3 separate regions of the Homo sapiens genome follow, and regions 1 and 3 are each linked to region 2. Evidence: fine-mapped expression QTL. A gene starts in region 2. Each other region holds a variant in brackets. All regions are shown on one strand. Distances are from middle to middle.

Region 1 (4,121 bases), 22 kb after region 2:
AGCCTCCTGAGCAGCTGGGACTACAGGCATGTGTCACCATGCCCAGCTAATTTTTGTATTTTTAGTAGAGATGGGTTTCTCCGTGTTGGCCAGGCTGGTCTCAAACTCCTGACCTCAGGTAATCCACCCGCCTCGGCCTCCCAAAGTGCTGAGATTACAGGCGTGAGCCACCGCACCCAGCCTGTTTTGTTTTGTTTTGAGATGGAGTCTCCCTCTGTAGCCCAGGCTGGAGTGCAGTGGTGTGATCTTGACTCACTGCAACCTCTGCCCTCTGGGTTCAGGCAATCTCCTGCCTCAGTCTCCCAAGTAGCTGGGATTACAGGCGTGAGCCACCATGCCCAGCTATTTTTCTTTTTCTTTTTTCTTTTTTTTTTTTTTTCTGAGACGGAGTCTCCCTCCGTCGCCCTGGCTGGAGTGCAATGGCAGGATCTCGGCTCACTGCAACTTCCGCCTCCCTGGTTCAAGCAATCCTCGTGCCTCAGCCTCCCAAGTAGCTGGGATTACAGGCGTCCACTACCAAGGCTGACTCATTTTTTTTTTTTTTTTTTTTTGAGACAGAGTCTCACTCTGTCGCCCAGGCTGGAGTGCAGTGGCACAATCTCGGCTCACTGCAAGCTCTGCCTCCTGGGTTCATGCCATTCTCCCGCCTCAAGCCTCCCGAGTAGCTGGGACTACAGGCACCCGCCCCCACGCCCGGCTAATTTTTTGTATTTTTAGTAGAGACCGGGTTTCACCATGTTAGCCAGGATGGTCTCGATCTCCTGACCTCATGATCCGCCCACCTCAGCATCCCAAAGTGCTGGGATTACAGGAGTAAGCCACCGCGCCCAGCTTCTAACCTCTACTTTTTGAAAAATAATTTCCTCCCATCCAGTTTCTGTTTTGGGCACTCCTGTTCATAAAATCTTGAAACTCCTGGACTGATATTCTACTTTGCTTATTTTCCATTCCTTTACATTTTTTTGTTCTACTTCCTATATTTTCTCAACTTTATGTTGTACCCATTCTTTGGAATGTGCTATATTTCTGTGATTATATTTTTAAAAATGTCTAAGAGCTTTATTTTCTGAATATCCTTCCCCCTGTCCTCCCCACCCCCCATTTTATGAGATAGAATTTCACTATGTTGCTCAATCTGGACTCCAACTCCTGGGCTTGAGCAAACCTCTTGCTTCAGCCTCCTGTGTAGCTGGGATTACAGGTACACACCATTACACCTGGCTTGAATATCCCTTTTTATGTTTTTTTGCTCCTGTGTGTTAAATGAAAAATCTGCTCCCTGAGCTGGGCACAGTGGCTCACACCTGTAATCCCAGCACTTTGGAAGGCCAAGGCGGGTGGATCACCTGAGGTCGGGAGTTCGAGACCAGCCTGACCAACATGGAGAAACCCCGTCTCTACTGAAAATACAAAATCAGTCGGGCATGGTGGTGCATGCCTGTAATCCCAGCTACTAGGGAGGCTGAGGCAGGAGAATCGCTTGCACCTGGGAGGTGGAGGTTGTGGTGAGCCGAGATCGTGCCACTGCACTCCAGCCTGGGCAACAAGAGTAAAACTCCATCTCAAAAAAAAAAAAAATCTGCTTCCTGAGTACACTGTATTAATATTAATCATTTTCTTTTTTTTTTTTTTTTGAGACAGAGTCTTACTCTGTCGCCTAGGCTGGAGTGCAGTGGCACTATCTCAGCTCACTGTAACCTCTGCCTCCCGGGTTCAAGTGATTCTCCTGCCTCAGTCTCCCGAGTAGCTGGGATTACAGGCGCCTGCTACCAAGCCCAGCTAATTTTTGTATTTTTAGTAGAGACAGGGTTT[C/T]GCCATGTTGGCCAGTCTGGTCTCAAACTCCTGACCTCAAGTGATCCAACTGCCTTGGCCTCCCAAGGTGCTGGAATTACAGGCGTGAGCCACCACGCCTGGCCTAATCATTCTCTTTTTTTTTTTTTTTTTTTTTTTTTGAGACAGAGTCTCACTCTGTTGCCCAGGCTGGAGTGTAGTGGCGCCATCTTGGCTCACTGCAACCTCTGCCTCCTGGGTTCAAGCGATTCTCCTGCCTCAGCCTCCCAAGTAGCTGGGACTATGGGCACCCACCACCACACCAGCTAATTGTTGTATTTTTCGTAGAGACAGGGTTTTACCATGTTGGCCAGGCTGGTCTCGAACTCCTGACCTCAGGTGATCTGCCCACCTCAGTCTCCCAAAGTGTTGGGATTACAGGCGTGAGCCACTGCCCCCAGCCCTGAGCATTCTTAATAAGTTATATTATTATATTATTAGTAGTCTAGTTATATAAATTATATTTTTACATTCCCTGCATTGTACTTGTTTTCCTCCTCACCACCATTTATGTCTTTATTTTGGCTTCTGTCTTTCATGGAAGAGACTTCCCTCAAACCCTGGTTTGCTCCTTCATATCTGAGCAGAGGCACTTAAAGGCCAACTGAATGCTCTCTAAAATTCGAAGATTTGCATCTTCCCTGCAGGGTGAGGTGGCAGAGACAACCATTGTGTTGAGATCCCTCAATGCCCAGAGAATTTTTAGGCTGCTCGGTTCTTCCAGAGAAGAACCCTGCAGCCTCTGGCCTGGGGACCATGAACCTGGCTGCTAGTGCTCTAGAGTCAGGAGAAAATAGCTGCAGTTTCTCTCCCTCTTCACCCTCAGCTGGCTGACAACCTGAAGCCCAGGGACCCATTGCTTCATTCTCTCCAGAGAACCCAGATACCTCCTGCCTTTTCTGGGGGGGCAGTGGGAGAGGGGCAGTCACCCAGCTGCCCAGGCTGGAGGAGGGAACATGAGGGTCTAACTGCTCCTTATGTCGAGTTTAAACTCACCCTTCATTTCCAGCCCCCTCCTTCCACCCCTACCTTTGGAAAGCTTGATGCTCCCAGTCCCAAGCCTTTCAGCGGCAACGAAGTCAACACTGGCCTGCCGCTTGTTGTTCCCACCGTTTCAACTTCCTCGGACCCTAGTCAGTTTTCCTTCTTCCATCAGATGTTTAGCTCCCAAAATGTTTTTGTCATATCTTCATGTATTGTTTTCGCTTCTGTTCTCCTTATTGTTTTACTGTTATTTTGGTGGGGTTTGGGAAGGAAGCAAACATAAAATCACATGCATTCATTTTACCACATTTAGCAGAGTCTCTTTCACCTCTCACCTCTTGCACCCTCAGACTCCTCTGAGCTCTACTTGAAGGTCATCCATAACCTTTGTGCTGCTCTCCCCAGGCCCCGCCTCTGGCTAGAGTGCATTTGGCATCTTGTCTGCCTGAAGCACTCTCACTGTGCCTCCCCAGCCTCACTCTTGGCCATTACTGGCTCCCATTTCCGTGTCCTGCACCTTCCCATTAGAGCATCGGTTTCAAACGTGGAGTTATGAAATTAGTGGGCTGTGCAATCAATTCGGTGCAGCTTAAACAACATTGATTTTATATTTATATACATTGGGAGGAGATGTAAGATATATTTCTTACCGTAGGTCAAAGCTGAAAAACTTGGAAAGCCACTGTATTCGGTCCTTCTCACTTTGAACTAGTTGCTGCATCTAAGACCTGACAACTCCAGTTGGTATTTAGCAGATTGTGGCCAGGCGCGGTGGCTCATGCCTGTAATCCTAGCACTTTGTGAGGCTGAGGCGGGCAGATCACCCTAAGTCAGGAGTTTAAGACCAGCCTGGCCAACATGGTGAAACCCTCTCTACTAAGAATACAAAAATTAGCTGGGCGAGTGGCGGGTGCCTGAAATCCCAGCTACTTGGGAGGCTGATGCTGAAGAATCACTTGAACCCAGAAGGTGGAGGTTGCAGTGAGCCGAGATCATGCCACTGCACTCCAGCCGAGGCAACAACAAAACTCCAACTCAAAAAAAAAAAAATTTATATATATATATATATATATATATATATATATATATATACACACACACACATACTTTAGCAGATTGAATATATATGAAATCACTGTATAACCTGTAAAGTTACATGAATCTGAACTATTTGTCTAAACTAGGCATCTAAAATGAGCTTGTGTCCGCAATTGGTGGGTTCTTGGTCTCACTGACTTCAAGAATGAAGCCGCAGACCCTCGCGGTGAGTGTTACAGCTCTTAAGATGGCGCGTGTGGAGTCTGTCC
Region 2 (4,271 bases):
GGTTTCACATTATACTCTCCACTAAGCAAGAGGGGAGAAAATGACCCTGAGAATGGTCTGTGTCCACAGGGAGCTAAACATCTAGGGGCAGAGAAAGTATGGACACAAATATTCAGAACCCAATAGGATAAACTCTGACTCAGAGTGTACCCTGTGGGGCCCTGGAGGAATAGAGGAGGCGAGGAAATGTTCTGCTCTTGGCCTTACTGCTCTACGAATCTCCAAAAACTGGTTAGTACTGAAGAGATAGGAAAGGAAGACACTAACACAAAGGCAGGAGGAGGACAGGAAGAGAAATGACGAACCAACAGAAGACTGAGAGAGAACAAAGGACTAAAGGACGGTTAAAGATGGGCCAGGGAAACTGAGCAAGAGAGAGAACAGCTGCTCACCATGGCACTCAGGAAGCCCCTCTCCAAGGCATTGAGAGTGGGCACGGCCACACCCCCAGCAGCTCCCCATTCGTCGTTGAAGACCTCCTCCTCCTCCCCTTCATCATAGAGGTACTTACTGGCCACCATCTGCAGAGGAACCAGAAGTGGTGGAGCAGAGCTCATAGCAGGCTCTTGGCTCTTTAGGGAGATGGGGAGGGGGTGTCTTACCATGGAGATCAGGAACAAGTCAGAGGATGACACATGCTGCAAGTAGTCTGGGTTTCGGTGCCGGAGCCGTTCAATGTACACCAGAGCCAGCATCATAGCACATGGGGAGATGCATGCCTCCCTGGGTGGTAGAAAGGATCACTAATTAAACCCAAGGGTCCTTCAGCTCTTGCAAGTCTTATGATGCTCGTTCCTGTCTTTACCTCTTATCTTTGGAAAAAAACTATTCCTGGCTGGGCACGGTGGCTCATGTCTGTAATCCCAGCACTTTGGAAGACCAAGGTGGGTGGACTGACACCAGGAGTTTGACACCAGCCTGGCCAACATGGTGAAACCCCGTCTTTACTAAAAATACAAAAATTAGCCAGGGGCGGTGGTGTGTGCCTGTAGTCCCAGCTACTGGGGAGGCTGAGGCACAAGAATCACTGGAACCCAGGAGGCGGAGGTTGCGGTGAGCCGAGATTGTGCCACTGCACTCCAGCCTGGGTGACAAAGTGAGACTGTCTCAAAAAAAAAAAAAAGAAAGAAAGAAAAGAAAGAAAAGACGATTCCCCTTTCTCTAGGGCCCAAACACTCTCATCCTATCCTCATTTCCAGGCTCACCGGGACACATGAGCTACATATTTCTTCTGGAGTCGGCGAATAGGGCTGGGGGCTGCCTTCTGGAGCAGTTCGACAGCAATGTCTGCAAGGGACAGAAGGAAGGCCGAGTGAGCAAACAAGCACCCACACCCAACACACCAGTCCCCACTGCTAGCAGAAGACCCAGATCTGTATTTTCTGAGGCCTTGGGGACAGGACCATAGTAACAAAATAGAGATCAAATTCTCACACACTGAGACAAAAAGCCCATTCCAAGTTCGAATTTCAGCTCATTCTAACAGGAAAGCTTATTGCCCTGTCACATCAAACTATCCAGATTTATCTGTCACTGCTGTTCATCTGTGGCATAAACATGCCTTGTTTACTTGGGGAACATATGATGGATATCCTTCGAAAATTAGCTTTTCAATATATAAATCAAGAGTGATTTGTATAGATATATGTGGCAGCAATGTTTTTTATTCATTTGGGCTAAAAGAATGGGAAATGCAAACTGCCCTCTTGAACCAAGTACCAACGAGCTAGCAATGAAGAGACAGTGTAGCCACGGGGCAAACCTCGAGCCATTTTCTGCCTGATGACAATCCCATTTTCATGCTTCTCACTTGTCCAGTCACACAACACTGCCTAACCTGCCACCGGGCTGGAGAGCTCCTCCAGGCTACAGTCGGCTTCCCAGTCCCAGCCATAGTAGAGCCTCCTTCGGATCCGGGCACTCAGCTTCTGGTGTCCTGGGAGGAACTGAAACAGGGCAGGGGCAGCGGAGGGTGAAGGGCACGGAAAGGTATGATGCAGATCCTGGCTCTGGGCTGGAAGGCGGGGCAGGGGACAGGCCGGCCTCGCTGCTAGGGGGCCCGTGCCTTACCCAGACCCGCGTTCTGTAAATCGCTTGCCAATGGCAGCCTGGTCCATAGAGGGAGGAATGCCCCCACCCCCATCGAGGGTTCCCCGGGAGAAGTTCTCCGAGAAGGGCCCTCGTGTGGCCACCCCTACGCCCATTCCTATACTCCGCGGCTCTCCCTCCCGGCCCAAGCAGCCGCGGCCTCAAGGAAGCACTGCTCGAGCAGCTGCCGCCCAGTCCCGGCACAGCAGTCAGGCGAGCTCGCAGCGCCGCTCAGGCCGGGAGGGGCGCGCCGGGAGGCCGGGGAGGGGGCGGGACCCCCACTCACCGTGAAGTCCTGGAAGCCGGCGAGGGAGAAGGTGCCTTCTTCGTCCAGCAGGAGCCCGGTCAGGTCCATCGCGCCGCCAGTCGCCGCCCTGCGAAGGTGAACGGAAGGAAACGAGTTGTAGGGGGCTCGCGGAGCTGTCCTTGCCCGCCTGTCCACCTGCCAGCCTGCCTCCCCGGGGCGGGCCGCCGTCCTCGCCCTCGCCCTCGCAGCTCCCTCCCCCCGGCGGCGGAAGGCGGGGCCCGGGCTGAACTGGGCGCCTCTTCCTGTTCCGCCCCGGGCTTGGCGCGGCGCGCGGGGGCCCTAGGCCCGGGAAGGGAGGTGTCAAGCGTCCGTGCGACGCTCACCTCGCGGAGCAGAAAGGAGATGCGGCTGCGAGGCGCGTACTCCGCCTGTGCCGCGTCCGCCCGGCGTTTACAAGCCGCGGGGGTGCCGCCTGCAAGTCAGCGCCTGGCACTTCCTGCCGCCCATCTGGCCCAGCCTCCCGCCCCGACCCGCGGGCAGGAACCGGACTCGAACTCCTGGTCTCACGGAACGTGGCCAAGCCCCAGGCGCCTCTGAGAAATGGGGACAATTCGTAGGGGGGACCACGCCGCACTGAGGATGAACAAGCCAGGCGTAGCAATGGAGAAGTTAATGTGAATAAGACGAAACGCACAACAGGAAGTTGTTCCCAGTTGCTTTTTAGGAGAGATATTATACATACTCAGCAATGCATATGAAAAGCGTCTGAAAGGACACACAGGAAATTTAGCAGTGGGTGAACTATGAAAAGGAAGAGAAACTCAGGGTGTTTTTTTTTTTTACTGTAATTTGAACTTTTAAACCTAAGGCTACTGAGGAAATTCTGTGATCTTAAGCGAATGTAAGGCCTCAAAACGTGTCAACACGTCCACCCAAAAGTAAACTGCATCTACCCAAGGTTTTGTGTTGAAACCCACCTCCCGCCTCCGATCTCATGCTTGAGTAGGCCGAGGTGGGAAGAAGCTCCGATATGTGGAAGTGGGAAAGTTTAAGGAGATAGGAAAGAAACAACTTTTCTGAGTAGATGTTGTTTTCGAGTCTGTCGAGTCAAGCGCTGGTGTGTGTTTGTTTACCCACTGAGGGGAGGGAACTGGGAGGACCAGTGCGTTGAGGGTTGGTTGAGTAATGGGACGGCCACCGCCCTTCCCGAGCGAGCAGAAGCAGACCCTACCGGGGATACTGGGAATCTGGAAGCCCACTTCCTGCCCCACACGGGGATACCGGGGCAGCACCACACTCCCTAGCCGCCCTGCCTACTGTGGGATAAGAAAACGGGCTCGACTGCCTGGACCTAGACCCGGACTCGGAACCCGGGGTACTTCGTCAACCAGAAAACGAACCTGTGTAGGCGCAGTGTCAGCGGCAGCCGCCGGGGCGCATGCGCGGCCCGCCCTATCCGGGGGGGGGGGGGTTAGGCCGCGTCACGTGACGGGCTCAGCGCTCCGCAGTCACGTGACGCTCGTCCGCAACCTCTGCTGTCCTCCGCGGCGCCCCCTTCCGCCTGACGCGCCCCCGGCGGCGGCCGCGCAGCCCTGGCTCCTCGCGGGCTCGGGCGGCGGCTGCGGCGGGGCTATGGCGAGCGGCGGTGGCGGGGGTAACACTGGCGCGGGTGGGGGGCCGGGGATGGGCCTGAGCCTGGGCCTGGGTCTGGGTCTGAGCCTAGGCATGAGTGAGGCCACCAGTGAGGCAGAGGAGGAGGCGGCCACGGCCGAGGCGGTGGGACGCCTGGCCACGACGCTGTGGCTGCGGCTCCGCGGCTGGGAGGCGGTGCTGGCGGCGGCGCAGCGGTTGCTGGTGTGGGAGAAGCCGCTGCACAGCCTGGTCACGGCGGCCGCGCTCAACGGCCTCTTCTGGTAACGGCCGCGGAGGAGGGGGC
Region 3 (4,000 bases), 40 kb before region 2:
TATGGACTTTATATTTGTTAGTTACCCTTTCTTGGCTAATCTACTATGCTATTCTGATTATCTTCCTGTCTCACATTTCCATCACTGGCTATTACTCCTTCCAGTTATGACTATTCCCCATATCTCAATCTTTGGGCCTTTGTTCTTTTTTCCATACTCTTCCCAGCTAAAGATCCATCCATTCTCATGGCATCAAATATCATTTCTTTGTAGAAGATTCTCAAATCTATTTTCTGTAGACCCTTTTCTTCGACCTGAGCTTCAACCCTAGTTTTTCAACTCTTTCCTAGGCATTCTCACTTGTACGTCCCATAATCAATTTAAATTCAACATGTGGCCAGGCGCGGTGGCTCACGCTGGTAATCCCAGCACTTTGGGAGGCTGAGGTAGGTGGATCACGAGGTCAGGAGTTCGAGACCAGCCTGGCCAACATGGTGAAACCCCGTCTCTACTAAAAATACAAAAATTAGCCGGGTGTGGTGTGGTGGGCTCCTGTAATCCCAGCTACTCGGGATGCTGAGGCAGGAGAATTGCTTGAAACCAGAAGGCGGAGGTTGCAGTGAGCCGAGATCGTGCCATTGCACTCCAGCCGGGCAACAAAAGTGAAACTCCGTCTCAATTAAAAAAAAAAAAAAAATTCAACATGTATGTGAAAAAAATCTTCATCTTATGTTTTTAAATTAACTCTAATTATAAATAAGCCACTGATTTTGTAAAAAATAGGCTAAGGCATTGTTAAATTACCATACTGTAACAAATGGATTTTTATGAAACCCTTCTTCTACTAGGGGAAAGAGGAGGGAGACTCAACTGTGTAAATCTTCACAAAAAGCTCTGGAGGTACATGAAGCTTATAGGTTAGGCCCAAAAGGGCTAGGTATTTGTCAGAAGTAAGACATCAAGGCCGGGCACAGTGGCTCACGCCTGTAATCCCAGCACTTTGGGAGGCCGAGGTGGGTGGATCACTCAAGGTCAGGAGTTTGAGACCAGCCTGGCCAACACGGTGAAACCTTGTCTCTACTAAAAATACAAAAAAATTAGCCAGGCGTGGTGGCAGGTGCCTGTAATCTTAGTAATTCAGGAGGCTGAGGCAGGAGAATTGCTTGAACCCAGGAGGCAGAGGTTGCAGTGAGCCGAGATCACCCCACTGCACTCCAGCCTACAGGACAGAGTGAGATTCCGTCTCAAAAGTAAAGAAGTAAGACATCAAACATCATCACTGCCTCACAAATCAAATCTGAACCAAATGGATTTCTTAGACTGGAGATTTAAAGCAAGTAAGTGTGGCTCATGCCTGTAATCCCAGCACTTTGGGAGGCTGTGGCAGGCAAATTGCTTGAGCCCAGGAGTTCAAGACCAGCCCTCGGCTACATAGTGAGATCCTGTCTCTTTTAGAAAACAAATAAATAAATAAATAAACCAAATGAGAGACTAATGGTGGATTTGATGGAGCAAAACAGAGGAAAAAATAGTTTTCACTTTGGCAGAGTTGGTAACTTCCTTTGAGTAAAGTAAGATATACAACCCCCTGGAGCGCAGTCTGTTAAACTGTGCTAGCCTATCCAGGTCTAGATACAGGGACATGCATGATTTCGTTTTCCACAGGCCCCTACAACTCTCTGTTGTCTTCTATCCAGCCTGATATACATGTTTATGTAATATGACTGGCCCCTGCAGATATCTGATTTTGTAATATCTGGTTTTGAGATTTTTTAGGATAAGAGAATTTGAGATATGGGAAACTCCTTTGCTATTGGGATTCTTAGAATCAGAAACCCAAAATGGATAATTTTTACCCCCTTTGTATTCTTTCTTTCTTTTTCTGAGACAGTGTCTTTCTCATAATGTATTCCCACTTGGTTT[CT/C]TTTTTTTTTTTTTTTTTTAGAGACAAGGTCTCGCTTTGTCGCTCAGGCTGGAGTGCAGTGATGCAATCTTGGCTGACTGCAACCTCAGCCTCCAGAGTTCAAGTGATTCTCCTGCCTCAGTCTCCCAAGTAGCTGGGATCACAAGCCTGTGCCACCAAGCCCGGCTAATTTTTGTATTTTTAGTAGAGATGGAGTTTCGCCATGTTAGCCAGGCTGGTCTCGAACTCCTGACCTCTGGTGATCCACCCACCTCAGCCTCCCAAACTGTTGGGATTATAGGCGTGAGCCACCACACGTAGCCCCTACTTGGTTTCTTTATTTGTTTGTTTCTTTGAGATGGAGTCTTGCTCTGTTGCCCAGGCTGGAGTGCAGTGGCACAATCTCGGCTCACTGCAACCTCTGCCTCCGAGATTCAAGCGATTCTCCTGCTTCAGCCTCCTGAGTAGCTGGGATTACAGGCACCCACCATTGCACCCAGCTAGTTTTCTTATCTTTAGTAGAGATGGGGTTTCGCCATGTTGGCCAGGCTGATCTCAAACTCCCGACCTCAACTGATCTGCCCGCCTCAGCCTCCCAAAGTGCTGGGATTACAGACCTGAGCCACCGCACCTGGCCCCATTTGTATTTTCTATATTGATTTCCTTTTTTTTCTCTCTCAAAATTTTAACAATTTTTTTAAAAAATTACTTTAAAATTTTTAATAAATTTCCTTTTGAAAACATAAGCCCTTATAAGCCTTTGCAAAAGGAAAATAAAGAAAGAGGTCTTTTTAGCTCTTCTTGAGAAAAAAAAAAAAAAAAAGAAGTGGTAACCCCTGGTTACTACAGGATTCACAGTGAGAAAACCCCAAAGAGAAGGTGAAATTCAGAAAAAACAAAATATAGTTGAGAAACATGCACAGCCATACCTTCCTCCCTGGAGATTTTCATTCCAGAGCTCAAATACTGGTACATTCATATTTTCAGTAAGGAAAACAATTCTTTTATATGCCCACGGTTAAACCGACCCCACCCATGATCTTCCTAGTCTATCAATGGCATCACTATTCTTCAAATCACATAAGCATATGACCAAGAGCCTAATATTCCTAAAGATCACCTTCATATGTCAATTCTCCAGTCAAAACTTTCAATGGCTTCCCACTATCTGCAACAGTAATTAATAAGTGCAAGGAGAATGTGCCCCATCTCCCTCCTAGGAGATGTGTCCCCACTTGAGAATCACAGCACATAATGACAGTCGTTAACAATTGAACTAAATGGAGAAATAAATGTGTTACAGGCAAAAAAAAAAAAAAAAAAAAAACAAAAAAAACTGAAAACCACCTTCAGAATAAAACACTAATCTGCCAGCCCAACATTTAAGGCCCCCACAATTTAGCCTCAAGTTATTATCTTGCTAACTTTATTTTCTACTAATCCTCATCCATTCTTATTCTTATTTTCCATCCTTTGCCCAAGTGCTTCCCACCTAAAATGTCTTCCACATAGTTTTCAATCAAAGCCTAAATCAAAGCCCAGTTCACGTCCTGCCATTTATAGAAAGCTTTTTCTAATCACTCCACTACTATGGCCCTTATTATCATTCACTAAGCACTATAAGCTCTTTGATGGCAATATTATCATACCTTATATGCTCACAGAACCTCATTCAGCCCGCATGCACCTGACCGAATACCGAAAGGATGAATTAACTGCAAGTTTTTCTAGGTCGGAGAACTGACACACATAATAGGAGGGAGCATATTCTCATGCATCTAGACTTATCCTTTTTTACGATGCCCACATGGACACTAAAAAAAAACCACCCTGAATCCTATGGCTTTCTCTACATATTGAACAACAGGTACATGGTAAAAGGGTAGCCCTTCTAACTGTGGAAGTGGAGCCCTTGTGACTCTAAGACTAATTTTCTTTCCAGGATTTTGTTAGGTACTTATTCTTTTGACTTTTGAGGTGTTAGTCTCTTAACTGGCTCTAAAAAAAGAGAGGTTCTGGGATTTCTCAATAATAAAAGATTCAAGGTTTATATACACTTCATCCCGAAGTTGGGACTGCCTTTCAGAAAACATAAATGTCAAACAAATAAGGCAGGTGGTAGAATGGGAATATAGGCTACTCATCTATTTACATGTA

What was found. PIP is the estimated chance that this variant, and not a neighbour inherited with it, causes the effect.
Region 1: its variant is the best candidate, but not a certain one, in a credible set for the expression of CNPPD1 in whole blood (TOPMed, PIP 0.57).
Region 3: its variant is the best candidate, but not a certain one, in a credible set for the expression of CNPPD1 in B cells (CEDAR, PIP 0.50).

What each region holds. Positions count from the first base shown.
Region 1 is chr2:219,196,434-219,200,554 of GRCh38, forward strand. No RefSeq gene overlaps it. Among named protein-coding and RNA genes, the nearest start is that of ZFAND2B, 8.3 kb to the right of the region's middle. The variant C/T (reference allele first, on the strand shown) is at 1,813.
Region 2 is chr2:219,174,386-219,178,656 of GRCh38, forward strand. CNPPD1 (cyclin Pas1/PHO80 domain containing 1) reads right to left here and starts at 2,540. Exons shown (of 8, transcript NM_015680.6): 1 at 2,375-2,540; 2 at 1,838-1,946; 3 at 1,206-1,287; 4 at 603-723; 5 at 393-521. The coding sequence starts at 2,443. RETREG2 (reticulophagy regulator family member 2) reads left to right here and starts at 3,890. Exons shown (of 9, transcript NM_024293.6): 1 at 3,890-4,248. The coding sequence starts at 3,968. RefSeq lists silencers at 2,162-2,456, 2,295-2,354, 2,475-2,684, 2,755-2,804, 3,795-3,874 and 2 more and an enhancer at 3,585-4,085.
Region 3 is chr2:219,134,423-219,138,422 of GRCh38, forward strand. The region is part of intron 5 of NHEJ1 (non-homologous end joining factor 1); the gene reads right to left. Among named protein-coding and RNA genes, the nearest start is that of NHEJ1, 24 kb to the right of the region's middle. The variant CT/C (reference allele first, on the strand shown) is at 1,864.